Linked DNA regions of Homo sapiens. The protein of the gene in region 4 purifies or fractionates together with the protein of the main gene of each other region. This does not show direct contact. Each region holds a gene or a part of one and is shown on either strand. Other genes may lie near its edges.

What was found. The genes of interacting proteins can lie anywhere in the genome.
Region 1: the proteins of SLC60A1 (region 4) and XPOT purify together in Homo sapiens (affinity purification with mass spectrometry; 2 studies listed by BioGRID and IntAct, with this or other methods). This does not show direct contact.
Region 2: the proteins of SLC60A1 (region 4) and MON2 purify together in Homo sapiens (affinity purification with mass spectrometry; 2 studies listed by BioGRID and IntAct, with this or other methods). This does not show direct contact.
Region 3: the proteins of SLC60A1 (region 4) and MMS19 purify together in Homo sapiens (affinity purification with mass spectrometry; 2 studies listed by BioGRID and IntAct, with this or other methods). This does not show direct contact.

Annotation. Positions count from the first base shown.
Region 1 is NC_000012.12:64,414,346-64,417,965, forward strand, and holds part of XPOT (exportin-T), read left to right. Parts: intron 1-561; coding exon 562-644; intron 645-2,352; coding exon 2,353-2,409; intron 2,410-3,620. UniProt on the Homo sapiens protein: Mediates the nuclear export of aminoacylated tRNAs. In the nucleus binds to tRNA and to the GTPase Ran in its active GTP-bound form. Docking of this trimeric complex to the nuclear pore complex (NPC) is mediated through binding to nucleoporins.
Region 2 is NC_000012.12:62,532,780-62,536,399, reverse strand, and holds part of MON2 (protein MON2 homolog), read right to left. Parts: intron 1,556-3,620; coding exon 1,474-1,555; intron 876-1,473; coding exon 691-875; intron 1-690. UniProt on the Homo sapiens protein: Plays a role in regulating membrane trafficking of cargo proteins. Together with ATP9A and DOP1B, regulates SNX3 retromer-mediated endosomal sorting of WLS away from lysosomal degradation.
Region 3 is NC_000010.11:97,470,849-97,474,468, forward strand, and holds part of MMS19 (MMS19 nucleotide excision repair protein homolog), read right to left. Parts: intron 14-3,620; coding exon 1-13. UniProt on the Homo sapiens protein: Key component of the cytosolic iron-sulfur protein assembly (CIA) complex, a multiprotein complex that mediates the incorporation of iron-sulfur cluster into apoproteins specifically involved in DNA metabolism and genomic integrity.
Region 4 is NC_000001.11:205,575,485-205,579,104, reverse strand, and holds part of SLC60A1 (major facilitator superfamily domain-containing protein 4A), read right to left. Parts: intron 1-3,620.

The sequences.
Region 1 (3,620 bases), on a different chromosome or scaffold from region 4:
ATATCATGCACTTGTACTCCAATTTTAATCTCTTTAGGGAACTTACATGATATAATTAAAGACTTGAAATACTCTCCTGTGTAACAGTAGATCAGATAAGGTACACAGTATGTTTTATCTTTTATAATCACCGCTTTAATAGCAGATGTGCTATTAAATAGGAAAAGTGCCCTTCACGTGCCATTTTATAATTGCATATTATAAAATGATCACACCCTTAACTCATCCTCTGCAATTTCTCAGTAGTATGGCACTTGACAAAGCACTTGCTCTCATTCTTCATAATAACCCCATGAAGGCTGCGGGGCATTTTTGTGTTGTTGCTGCTGTAAGAAAACAGGTTTGATTATCTAACTGATGGAATTTATATTTATTTAACCTATTTTTAGGAATGACCCCAAGTTGCATATATTCGGAAGCCTGCATTTAATGTTTTAACTGTTTTTCTATTAAGTTTACTGATTTGTTATAGGTTTGCAACTCTCAGAATATTTTGTTTATATTAGCAGGGCATTGAGATTGTTTATTCTAAATGCATTTTTTTGTTTTGCAATCTTATAGGCCCTGGCCTATTTTGAGCAGTTAAAAATTTCCCCAGATGCCTGGCAGGTGTGTGCAGAAGCTCTAGCCCAGAGGACATACAGGTAATTAAAAACAAAATTTGCATGACAATTTAAATTTCTGTGGACATGACAGGACTGTGAAATTTACCTGTATTTGGAAAGTGTTTTCATAAAAACATTTTATGACTTTTTTTTTTTTTTGCAAAGCCATTAACATATAGTCATTCCATGTAGAAATGAGAAAAGTAGTAAACCCAGTTTGGCCATTTCAGAATTAACTTTTCAGTAAAACCATCCTTTGGTATATATTGTGTACCTGTCACCAGATCCCAGCTGGAATAAAGTGCAGTAAAAACTTCCTTATCTTATGATTGAGGGTGATAACTGCTTTCCTAAAACTTTGGTAAAGACGGTGATTGTAAATGATATATATCTTAATTTTAAAATTATTTATTTATTTTATTATTATTATTATTATTTTCTTGAGATGGAGTCTCGCTTTGTCGCCCAGGCTGAAGTGCAGTGGCGCAATCTAGGCTCACTGCAAGCTTCGCCTCCTGGGTTCTTGCCATTCTCCTGCCTCAGCCTCCTGAGTAGCTGGGACTACAGGTGCCCATCACCATGCCCGGCTAATTTTTTTGTATTTCTTTTTGGTGGAGACAGGGTTTCACTGTGTTGGCCAGGATGGTCTCGATCTCCTGACCTTGTGATCCGCCCGTCTCGGCCTTCCAAAGTGCTGGGATTACAGGCGTGAGCCACCGTACCCGGCCTATATCTTAATTTTTAATTTTAACTTAAGGTATATAATCATTCGGTGACCAATCTTTTAATATTGGACCACAGTCTTTATCTTTGTATACTAACTAGCATTCACTTTATTCGTAGGTTGGTCACACCTGTAACCCATCCTCTACAATTTCTAGCATGGGTCTCTGTACAATGAGTGACGATCCATAGATTTTTAAGATATTTGTCCCCGCCTCTCAAGTCTTCTGGTTATATAGGCCATGTCAAATATGTACAAGATTTTTTCCTTCTGCAGTGTGGCTTTCTATGAAATCTTTCTAAAGCATTCAACTAACTTTTTACGGAAATAGGAACTCTCTTATACTCACTTCATTGGCAGATTGTTGGTCTCTAGAAGATCTTTGTCAGTGTTTATAGCTGGCTAACTGCAACTCTGCCACTCCCCTAGAAAGACAGTTGGAAGTGGGTAATTGGTGTGTTGACTTTTGCCCCCATCTTGTATAAGCAAGGGTACCATATTTGTAATTTAGTGTCCTGTACGAAACTTTGAAGTTGGACTGACAGTCCATGTGGCCCTGCTTGTTTTGGATTTGGCTACAATAGAACTACTGGGGTTGAATTTTAAGCAGGACTTGGACGACCATCTTTACTTTCACTCAGACTCTGTCTGTTCTGCCATTTGTAATTTTACACCTAACCTGTTATTGTAAAATGAAGGGACTGTTCCAGGAATCTTAATATCTGGAATTTAGAGGGATGGTTTGCTGCTTACAAAGCATTGTATTCAAGGTGCATCTTAATATCTTGGTTAGTTTGCTTGTCAGATTTAATGGAAATTTTAAATATTGTGTAATATTTAGAGTTCTCATAGCTTTTTAAGTAAATGGATTTTAATGTCATAAAATGAGACCAGTAAGTATGAAACAAGCCAAAGGTCTAGTTTGAGAAACTTTTCTGCTGTATTACTCATTACTATTTTGCCTTTGATTTGTTTTCCTCAGTTCATATTCTGCTTATCTCATTTTCTTTTTTTCTTTTTCAGTGATGATCATGTGAAGTTTTTCTGCTTTCAAGTACTGGAACATCAAGTTAAATACAAGTAAGGCTTTTCTTACTGTTTTGACTCAGATTTGCGGGGAGAGGTCATTTTTTTAATTTAATGTTTTTCTTCCATAAGGAAACCATAATACAGGTTGTAAATTCACAGTGTATATGTTATATCCAGGTTATAGATACGTTTTGATGTACCCCAAAGTGTTTTAAAAGTGCTGAGTTGGCCAGGTGAGGTGGCTCTCGCCTGTAATCCGAGCACTTTGGGAGGCTGAGGCCGGTAGATCACTTGAAGTCAGGAGTTTGAGACTAACCAGCCTGGCCAACATGGTGAAACCCCGTCTCTACAAAAAATACAGAAACTAGTCAGATGTGGTGGCATGCACCTGTAATCCCAGCTACTCAGGAGACTGAGGCACGAGAATTGCTTGAACCTGGGAGGCGGAGGTTGCAGTGAGCCGGGATCACACCACTGCACTCCAGACTGGGTGACAGCGAGACTCCGTCTCAAAAATAAAAAAAGTGCTGAGTTTGTTGGTTACACATAAAAATCCAAGGCTGGGCGCAGTGGCTCATGCCTATGATCTCAGCACTTTGGGAGTCCAAGGCAAGAGGATCGTTTGAGCTCAGGAGTTTGAGACCAGCCTAGGCAACATAGTGAGACCTCATCTCTACAAAAATTTTTTTAAAAAATTAGCCAGGCATGATTGCGCGCTTCTGTATTCCCAGCTACTGGGGAAGCTGAGGCCAGGAGGTTGAGGCTCCAGTGAGCCATGATGGTGCCACTGCACTTCAGCCTGGGCAATACAGCAAGACCTTGTCTCAAAAAAAAAAAAAAAAATGAAAATCCAGATATTTCACAGAAAAATCTAGATTTCCAGCTTTTCTGGAAAAGTCAGAATATCTGGTAACACCAGGCCTGTTTTTCTACATGACAATTCTCTCTTAGAGTTAAGTAGCTGCATGGGCACTTGTGTTCAGAATCTCTGACTTACTAATTAAGCAAAATAACAAATCACTACTGAGAGGATTCCTAGTTCACCTATTGGTTTATTCTGTAGATCACAGACCACAAAACATTTTCATTCGAAAAATTGTGTAGCCATCATTTGTTTCAACATGAACAGAATCACAAATTAAAGATTGATATTGATGCCCTACCTGCCACTCTTGTCCTTATCTTTAAAGCAATGATGAGTGGCATTATCAGTTTATGTTAGGGAACTTCAGATAATTGAGAGCTATACAAATTTTCCCTTT
Region 2 (3,620 bases), on a different chromosome or scaffold from region 4:
TCCTGTCTCATTAAAAAAGTATAAACAAAAAAACCCTAAATATTACACTGAAATTTATATTACATGTAACAAACAAGTATTCTTAAAGAATTCAACAAGAAAATAAATTTTTGAATGTAAGTTTAACCTAAGTGGTTACAAACATTACTGTTCTACTAGTTCCATTAAAAAAAAATAACAATCACCATTTCAATGGTATCTCATAGTTTACAAAGGACTTCCAGATTTATCTTATTTTCCTCTCACAATTATTGTTTAAAATTGGTATTACAAGTTGAGTATCCCTTATCCGAAATGCTTAGGATCACAACTGTTTCCGATTTCAGATTTTTGAATATTTATATTATATATACTTATGCATTTATTTGCATAATATATTTGTAAATACTTATGTTTGCATTATATACCTATTCACATTATATACTTATCCAATGAGCCTTTCCTTTGTCATGTTGGTGCTCAACAAGTTTTAGATTTTGCAGCATTTTAGATTCTGGATTTTTGGATATCCCATGCCCACCCCCCACCCCCCACCCCATATTTTTAAAGAGCTCTCAGGGACATTAATTTCCCCAAGGTCACACAGTCAGTATGTGAAAAAGCAGAGACTTAAACTCAGATGTTTATAATCTTCTGTCTACACCATATCATCCCACTACATAGAGAGAATTTTGAGTAAGCCTGTCTTACATTTGTTGGAAAGTGTAGCTGCAGTGGTGGTATTCAATACAGTAAGAGCATAATGGGGAGGCAGGGAACCTTTGCATATTGCAGTTATAAAGGCATCTCTTGAAGTTACAAGGCCCAGTCTTCCACAAAGAGCAGCCATAGTCAGTTCAGCTTTTAAAATATTCTCAGTGGCAGCTTCATCTGTGCTGAAAAGAAAGTATTTTATTTAATCTGATTAACTTATTTTTAATTACATTGTAAAGCATGATGTGGAATTAAGTATTCAGTGACATTTTAAGAAAATCTATACAAAAATATTGTCAAAATATTACCAATATACTTAAGAAGGAATTTTAATCTATTAACATAACCTCAAAAATTTGAACTGGGTAAAAGCAATGAATAATAATACATGTATTTATTACTGAAGAAAATGACCAAGAACATAAAGATTTAGCTTAAAATATCAAGCATTTTGAAACCAGTAAATTTTTAAATCCTAAAGAAAAAGAACAAAGAAATTAAATATAATCATAATTGCAAAAGTAGTTGTAAGTCTTGAAATGAAAAAGGCATTCTGTAATTTTAGGACTGTATTTTCCATTAAAACATCATGACAATTCTGGTGGCTTGGGGCAGGGCAAGGACAGAATGAGGAAGGGGGATGAGGGAAAAAGAATAATGTTTCACACATATAAAAAACTAATATTAGAAAATAATTCTAGGGACAAATGTAAGTAAACCATTTTAATGTGTTTTTTTTAACTGACACAGTTCAATATAAAACTTACAAAGACTTAATACCTGGCATCAAGAAGGAGTGAGAGTGCAGCAAGAAGACCACACCAGCAGGCATTCACCATTTCTTCCCAAACAGCCCTACTAACTTAAAGGAAAAAAACATACAATATTTAATTTTAATTATAGATAGCACAATATGTATTAATATGTGAAATTCTAAAATTTTCCCAGACAATATGTCAAATATTCCATTAACAACTTAATTATTAAATCTAATATTCAGTATTTAAAAATCTAAAAGAACGAAAACTCAGAAGCCGTACTATAGTTTCAGGCTTGAAGAAGTCTTAAAAATAAGTTGTTGTAAAATATCTATGGTAAGATCTTTCTGTACACGTTAAATTTTATATATATATATAAAATATATATATATATATATATATATATTTTTTTTTTTTTTTTTTTTTTTTTGCGATGGAGTCTTGCTCTGTTGCCCAGGCTGGAGTGCAGTGGCATGATCTTGGCTCACTGCAACCTTCGCCTCCTGGGTTCAAGAGATTTTCCTGCCTTAGCCTCCTGAGTAGCTGGGATTACAGACACACGCCACCACACCTGGCTAATTTTTGTATTTTTAGTAAAGACAGGGTTTCACCATGTTGGTCAGGCTGGTCTCAAACTCCTGACCTCGTGATCCACCCACCTCGGCCTCCCAAACTACTGGGATTACAGGCGTGAGCCACCACGCCCAGCCATTTTTTTTTTTAAGAGACAGGGTCTTGTTATGTTACTCAGACTGGACTCAAACTCCTGGGCACAAGCAATCCTCCTGCCTCAGCCTCCCAGGTAGCTGGGATTATAGGCACATGCCACTATGCCCAGCTGATATCCTTTCCTTTCCCTTTGCCTTCATCAACCCAAACTTTCTCAGCCTGTGTGACCAGTTGGAGTGAGGGCAGGGCGCAGTGTAACAAACTGGCTCAGCCAGGAGACTGATTACATACACTGAGAATCAAGCAAATAAGTAAATACACTGAGCAAAATGTGAGCAGGTTCCAACACTGTTGGAGAAGGGAATTACAAATACAGAAAGTTAAAAATAAACCTTGTGGTACTGAACTGGAACTGAAGAAACTAGTGTGATGTCATGGTAATTCAATATAGAGAAACAGACATTTTAGAAATGTACAGAGACGTGTGCTTGTGTGTGGGGGTGTGTGTATGTGGCTATGTATTTCCTATCCAAGTGGTGAAAAGCATACCTAGTATACCTGTGTTCGTTTCAATACTATTCTCCACTAAAAGGAACCAGGACTTCCTGGAGAAATGACTGACACCTGGGATGGACAAGAATCATCCAAGATCAGCCTGGAACATCTTGTTCTATCAAATAGGAAGTGCTCAGAGAATGTCAAAAGGGCATGGGACATGTCCAAAGGACACACGGGTCATCTTGAAAGAGGTCCCATTGGCCATGTTGGGAACAATCTGAGCATCAAACCAAATAATAATAAAGACTATAATCCTCTGAATAAAATAGGAATCCATGAATCTACACTAATATAAGTGAATAATTTTTAAAAAATAAAAAAATGCAGAAGGGAAAGCACTCTTTTGTAGTAGCAATCTGAAAGTATTTTTCCACAAAAAGTTAATAATTAACTGTACACTGAAGAAACCAGGCTGACATTGTATTAACCAACTCATAGAAGTGAGCATCTCCAATAATGACACAAATTGATACTGTAGTATGCTTCCTAATGTAATGATACAGTAAGTACAGCACAGCAACATTTCTGTGCCAGTCCTGTCAAAAATGAATAAGCTGAATGTAATTATGAAGGAACACAACACAAACTCAAACTGACTGACTTGTACTCAAAAAAGTAAGGTCATATAAAACAAGGAAAAACTAAGAAACTTCCAAGTTGAGACATGGCAACTAAATTCAACACATAAAAGGACATCACTAGGGCAACTGGCAAAATTTGAATGAGACCTGGAGTTAGATGATAATATTGTATTGATGTTAAATTTCTGATGGTGATTGTACTATGATACACAGGAGACTAACCTTATTTTGAAAAAATACACACTGATGCATTAAAGGGTAGTAATACGGCATCATGTCTGCAACTTTTTCTATAAATAGGTCAGAAAAAAGTATAGTCACATGTATATAATTCAAGAAAATGGTAAGGTAAATGTGGGAA
Region 3 (3,620 bases), on a different chromosome or scaffold from region 4:
GATCATTAGGTGGCTGGAAAAGGGAGAAGGGCTGTGGGTTTGTGTAACATTTCAGACCACCTTGAACACAGGCTCGAACCTGGTAACCCTGCAGAACAGGGTGATACTCATACCCAATCAGGGAAGATAGTAAGATAATGAGGCCCCAGCAAGAAGACTTGCTTGATCTTAGGTACTCCTTGGGAACTTTTGTCTTTAGGCATTTTAAAAAATCTGATTACACATTTTCTATCATTTCACCACTCAGAAATAAGCATGCTTAACTTTCTGGTGTATTCCTTTCTTCGCTGATATATATTGTTACTATGTGCTAGTATATACTGTTTCCATATAAAATATATATATACTTAAAAATCATTTTGTACATGTGGTTTTTAATTTTTTTCACTTAACATATTAAGAACATTTTTATGGTATTATTCTTTCATAGCATTAGTTTTAGTGGCTATGATTTCATTTTGTGGTTGTACCAGTTTATCTAGATAATTCCTTGTTGATGGACATTTCCATTTTTTTCACCCTTATAAAAAGCTGTAATTCTGAAAACAGAAAGCCTTGATGGTTTCTGTACCAAGACGACAGACTGAAAACATATATCAGGTTTTCCTTTTCCTCTTTGCAAACTCCACCAAAAACATAGTAAAAGAAGGGATTTACTATTATTATTATTATTTTTTTTTGAGACAGAGTCTCACTCTGTCACCCATGCTGGATTGCAGTGGCTTGATCCTAGCTCAGTGCAACCTCCACCTCCTAGGTTCAAGTGATTCTCATGTCTCAACCTCCCAAGTAGCTGGGGTTACAGGCGCACCAACACACCTGGCTAATTTTTATATATTTTTTGTAGACATGGGGTTTCATCATGTTGGCCAGGCTGGTCTGGAACTCCTGACCTCGAATGATCCACCCACCTCAGCCTCCCGAAGTGCTGGGATTACAGGCGTAAGCCACCGAACCTGGCCTGGTTTCTGTTTTCATGACTGGACTTTGATAGAAAAGATAAAACTGTGGAATTCTCTTATAAAGTAACAAAAAGACAGAGGTACAAAATAGAAAACAAAAGGTCAGAAAATCAGAGGTCCAACAGAAGATTAATGAGAGTTCCAAAATGAAGGAACAGAGAAAAGAGAGAGGAAGAAATCATCAATTAAAGAATTCAAGAAAAATTTACAGGACTAATGGACACGGGTTACCAGATTGACAGGGCCTACTAAGTACCCAACACAGTACATGAAATAGACCAATACTAAGGCACATCACTGTGAAGTTTCAATGTATCGGGGTGAACCAAACATCAGTTTATAGAGAGGAAGAAAAAAATGGTAAATACAAAAGTTTATGAAACAGAAGAAATTCAGACTTCTCCACAGCAAATGAAAACTAGATAACTAGGCTTATTTATTTATTTGAGATGGAGTTTTGCTCTTGTTACACAAGCTGGAGTGCAATGGCACGATCTTGGCTCACTGCAGCCTCTGCCTCCAGGATTCAAGCGATTCTCCTGCCTGTCTCCCGAGTGGCTGGGATTACAGGCTCACGCCACCATGCCCGGCTAATTTTTTTGTATTTTTAGTAGAAATGGGGTTTCACCATGTTAGCCAGGCTGGTCTTGAACTCCTGACCTCAGGTGATCCGCCTGCCTTGGCCTTTCGAAGTGTTGAGATTACAGGCATGAGCCACCACGCCCAGCCAATAACTAGATTTAAATGTAGCAATGCCTTCAAAATCTTAGGAGAAAATAATTTCCATTTTTTTTTTGTTTTTGTTTTTGGTTTTTTGGTGACTGAGTCTGGCTCTGTCTTCCAGGCTGGAGTGCAGAGGCATGATCTTGGCTCAATGCAACCTCTGCCTCCCCAGCCCAAGCCATCCTCCCACCTCCACCTCCCGAGTAGCAGGGGCTACAGACTCGACCACCACGCCCAGTTAATTTTTGTATTTCTTATAGACAAGGTTTTGCCATGGTGCCCGGGCTGGTCTTGAACTCCTGAGCTCAAGCAATCCACCTGCCTCAGCCTCCCAAAGTAGCGGGATTACAAGCGTCAGTTACTGCACCTGGCCTCTTTCTCAGGTGCAATCATAGTGCACTACAGCCTCAAACTCCTGGCCTCAAGTGATTGTTCTGCCTCAGCCTCACAAGTAGCTGGGACTGCAGACATGTGCAACTGCATCCAGCTAGAATTCTCTTTTTATTTATTTTTTTTTTTGAGATGGAGTTTTACTCTTGTTGCCTAAGCTGGAGTGCAATGGCGTGATCTCGGCTCACTGTAACCTCCGCCTCCCAGGTTCAAGCAATTCTCCTGCCTCAGCCTCCCAAGTAGCTGAGATTACAGGCGCCTGCTACCACGCCTAGCTAATTTTTGTATTTCTAGTAGAGACGGGATTCCACCATGTTGGTCAGGCTAGTCTCGAACTCCTGACCTCAAGTGATCCACCCGCCTCGGCCTCTTAAAGTGCTTAGATTACAGGTGTGAGCCACTGCGCCCGGCCTAGAATTTCTATTCTTGAATTACATGCCCATAATGTCAAAAATGAGAGACAAGATTGAAGGCATTTAAGGGTTACAAATCTAAAAAATTCTCACTTCTTCATACATTCTCTCAGGAAAATACTAAAGGAAGTACACCATCAAACTGAGGGGGTAAACCACAAAATGAGGAATATGTGAACTCAGGAAACAGGAGATCTGATCCAAGAAAAAGGATAAGGGAATCTAGGATGACGGTGAAGGAAGAACCAATATCTACTCTGCATTAGGAGTAAAAATCAACCTGTTGACATTGTTTGGCTAAGAATGGTTTTAACATTTTTAATGTTTGAAACAAACCAAAAGAATATCTTGTGACAAGTGAAAATTATATGAAATTCAAAGTTTAGTGTTGATAACAAAAGTTCTATTGGGATATAGCTACTGTAGCTGTTCCTGTGTCTAAGGCTGTTTTTGTGCAGTAACAGCAGAGTTGAGGAGACCATATGACCCACAAAGCTACTGTCTGGCCTTTTATAGAAAAAGTTGGCCAGGCATGGTGGCTTATGCCTGTAATCCCAACACTTTGGGAAGTCGAGGCAGGTGGATGGCTTGAGCCCAGGAATTCAAGACCAGCCTGGGCAACATGGCAAAATCCTGTCTCTATAGAAAAATACAACAATTAGTCGGGAGTAGTGTCATGTGCCTATGGTTCCAGCTACTCGGGAGGCAGGGGTGGGAGGATCACCAGAGTACCAGAGTCCAGAGAGGTGGAGGCTGCAGTGAGCTGTGATGGTGCCACTACACTCCAGCCTGCCTCAAAAAAAAAAAAAAAAAAGGGAAAGAAAAAGTTTGCCAACCTCTTCTTAGAGTGAGCATATAAGCATAGTGAAGAAACTGAACCTTAAGCTCATCAGATCCACTATGATGGCACACAATACTGATTTGTGGCTGGATATGTGGCTCACACGTGTAATCCCAGCACTTTGGGAGGCCGAGGCAGGTAGATCAGTTGAGGTGAGGAGTTCGAGACCAACCTGGACAACATGGCAAAACCCCATCTCTACTAAAAAATATAAAAAAAAAATTAGTCAGGCATGGTGGCACGTACTGTAATCCCAGCTATTCAGGTGGCTGAGGCACAACAATCACTCGA
Region 4 (3,620 bases):
GGCCATACACACTGAAAGGTGACCGTGTTGATCTTCCCCTTTTTCAGATAATAGAAAAGCCCACAGCAGGCAGGGGGAGGGCCTGCTACCCTATCAGTGAATGAATGAATGATTGGATGGAGTGTCTAAGGCTCTGTCAAGGTCTTTTTTGGGACACTCTGCCCAATAACCAGACTCTCAGAGAAAGGATAAAGACTTGTATTTTCTGAGACCAGTCTGAAAGTCTAATGTCAGAGAGGAGAGATTGGGCAGCAGGCAGGTTCTGGAGGTTGTAGAGGAACTTTCTCAGATTATGAAAAGGGAGAGAGCCCCCCACCCCATCAGCCTCCAGTGTGGCTGCTGGACCTGGAAAGGTGGGAGCTGAGAGAGGGGAGGGGGAAAGGCCTCTCTGAGTTTCACACTGAAAAAAAAAGAGGAGGGCCCCAGTGATCACTCAGGCTGTCTTCCCAGAGCTTCTGCCCCTGACCCCCTTGGCTCTTGGCCTTGGCCCTCAGCCATCTCATCTTGCCCCATCTTTGATTAAATCCTCTATCAGAATGGCTCTGCTGATAGAGCAGTTCGTTACTTTCTCCTTTCTTGTTTCCAGGCTGATCTGCTGGGGAGATTACCGATCATGACAGTCATGACCCCAGCATGTTCCCAGCTCAGAACTCATGGGGGAGGAGAGGGGGACCAACCTCAAGGCCAGCTGTTAGGAGATGGAGGGAGAGTGCGTCATGGGGAGGCAATGCTAACACACACCGTGGGCTGATAAAACAGCAGGCTGCTCATCATAGTTCTCTCTCTTTCCCCTCCCTTTCCCTGGACAAGACAGACTAGGCAGCCTCCTAGGTGGCCTGACTTCAGGGATAGCCAGAGAGTCCCCTGTCTGCACTCTCAGAGGTCCCTCTACTGACACGGGTACCAGGACATGACATTTCTACCACCTCACTCACCACTTTGCGTAAGCAGGGATGCCCCAAGGCAAGTGCAAAAACTCTCTCGAAGAACTAGCTCATTATCATTATTGTCTTTCAATCCTGCAGGAAAGTGAAGTCATCCATCCTGCAGCAAAGTCCTGAGGGGAACGGGACCTGGGATCAGTAAACTGACAGGGGCAGGGGCTGCGCAGAGGTATGGGAAAGGAAACCAGGATGATAGCGAGTACTACGGTCTGCTGACAACTGCTAACGTTTGTCACTTGGTTCATATGACAAGGCTATGAAGCAGGCTTTGTCGTTGTGCCCATTTGACCAGTGAGTAAACTCGGGCTGAGAAAAGCTAAGATAGCAGCAGACAGAGCCTGAACTCTAACCAAGGTCTTCTGGCTTGATAGTCCCTATGCTATGCTGCTTTTCCAGGGAGGAGTGTGTGTGCGTGCACATGTGGGTGCATGTGTATGGGTATGTGACTGAGTTACTCGCTAATGGCTCCACTCAGAAGGTGCAAATGCAGGAGGGGAGAGGAAGGAGCCACGGACCCAGCCAGGCTGGAGAGGGGAGTGCCAGCCGAGAATAGGAGGCCAGATTCTGCAGAGCGTTGAATGGCAAGGCTAGGAAGCACTGGAGAGCAGCTGCGGTCTCTAGAACATGCGCCTCTAACACCCCTCTGCGGGGGTTAGCAGAGATCCACATGCTCGCGAGCATCACTGCTGGCTCCACCACCAGCTTCCCCAGGCATCTGCCTCTGCCTGTTCATTGTGGAAGCCATGCCTGGCCCCATGTTCGGCTCTGCAGAGACGCTCAACCCAGGTTCCTGGACGTGGCTAGTGACCGGCGCAGTGCTTGGGGAACGCTTGTCTTGCCAGCCCACATGGGGTGGCCTGGTAGAAGGGACTGGGCACTGCTGGGAGGCCGATGTGGGAGTTTTGCTAGTTTATCTGATAGGGGAGACAGAGATAGAGGCAGAGAAAGAATCATGTAGGGACGGGTTGCCAGGAAGGTGCCCGGTGTACAGTGGGGATTGGGAAAAAGAGAAGGGGTCAGTAAGGGCTGGAAGGGGTCAGGAAGCCCTGTCCAGGTCTCATCTCTGTCCTGTTCACTGCTGTTTGTCTCCTTTCACCTGTCATTCTTGAGAAGGACACTAGGTGCCCACTGGAGGTATGGTTTGTCCCAGGCTCAGCCACAGGCAGGAGGGAGGGATAAAGAGAGAAAAGACGGAAAAGGGAGGTTGGAGAGAACCACGCCTGGGAAATCCCCTCCCTGCATCTCCCTGGACTGTGATTTTAGTTTGATAGGCCTGGAGGTTAGGGCGATGGAGACCTGTTCCCAATAAATGGGGACATCTGTATCACAGGAAATCTTGTCTGTAGATCCCAGGCTGCCCACCCTCCCCAGTTGCTTCCATAGGGCTGTGCCTGGGCATTCCAAACATCAGCCTGAACAAATTTCTTTAGAATGATATGCTGTTGCCAAGGAAAAGGAAGTCCCAGACACATCCCAGAGCCAGACCGAAATACATTTATTGCCTGTTTTAAATGGCTTGGTCAATAGCCCCTTCTAGGAATGTGGATAATTAAAAATTATGGAATAACCATGTCAAAACAGTTTTGGCATCCAGGATGGAGTGCGATCTGGAATCAGAATACTGGGTTCTAGGCCCACCTTGGCCACTTCCCAGAGATGTGGCTTGGGCAAGCCACTTATGCTTAGCCCCTCTGAGCCTCAGTTTCCTCTGCTGTAAAATGGGGATAACAAGCTCTGCATGAGGTTGGGGCTGCCACGAGGAGTCCATGTGATGTGACATTTCATCCTCCTTTGCTCACTCTCTGGGATTTTCCCCTGGCCACTTGCCACCCCTCCCAGGTGCTCACTGCCTCCCTGCTGGCCCTGGCTTCCCCAAAGAGCAATGTTGGGCCCAGAGAACTGCACTGAGCTGACAGGGTACAGAGACCAGTGCCAGCTCCCAGATTCTACCCTCCCAGGCCTGCCCCTATTCCTGCTGCAGTGCCCTTTGGGGTGACCCTGGGAGGCTGGCCCAGGAACTGTTGGAGGGAGATACCCCTGCTCCTACCTCTTGTCCCCCGCCCCACTCACTCTCCACCCTGGGCAGCGTCCCAGCTAAGGTGGCAGCAATGACATGAGTCCTGTCCCTCATTTTACAGATCAGGAAACTGAGGCCCAGATAGGGGAAAAGAGAGGAGTAGAACTGAGCCAGGATCCAAAGTCTTGGCTCCCAACCCAGGCAAAGCCAGCAGAGTGGCAGAGTGGCATTGGTCTTCCCTCCCCTGGTCCTGGGCTCACAGGTTAATTCAGGCCAATTAGAGAAAGAGCCTCACTTTCCCCAAGGCCCAGAGAGACCCAAGATATAGCCTGGACAGTCTGGAAAACCTACTTCAGGAAGTCTCAGAAATGACCAAGTTACTTATTAATGGCTCCACACAGAAGGTCTAAGTGGGAGAGGGAAGAGGAAGGAGCCTGAGTTCTCCCCCAGGTGAGCTGTGGCTCTGCTGGAGCTGCCTGCCCAGCCCCTGTTGCTGGGTGACCTTGAGCTGCTGCTGCCCCCTTCAGCCCCATGCTCTGCCTTACCCACAGGGCATACATGATCACTTTGACCTGGCCTTGCCTTGAGCACCTGTTCTTGCCTTCCTGGTTCTGTGAAAAGAGGAGGGAATAGTTGGCTCTGAAACAGGGGAAGGGCCT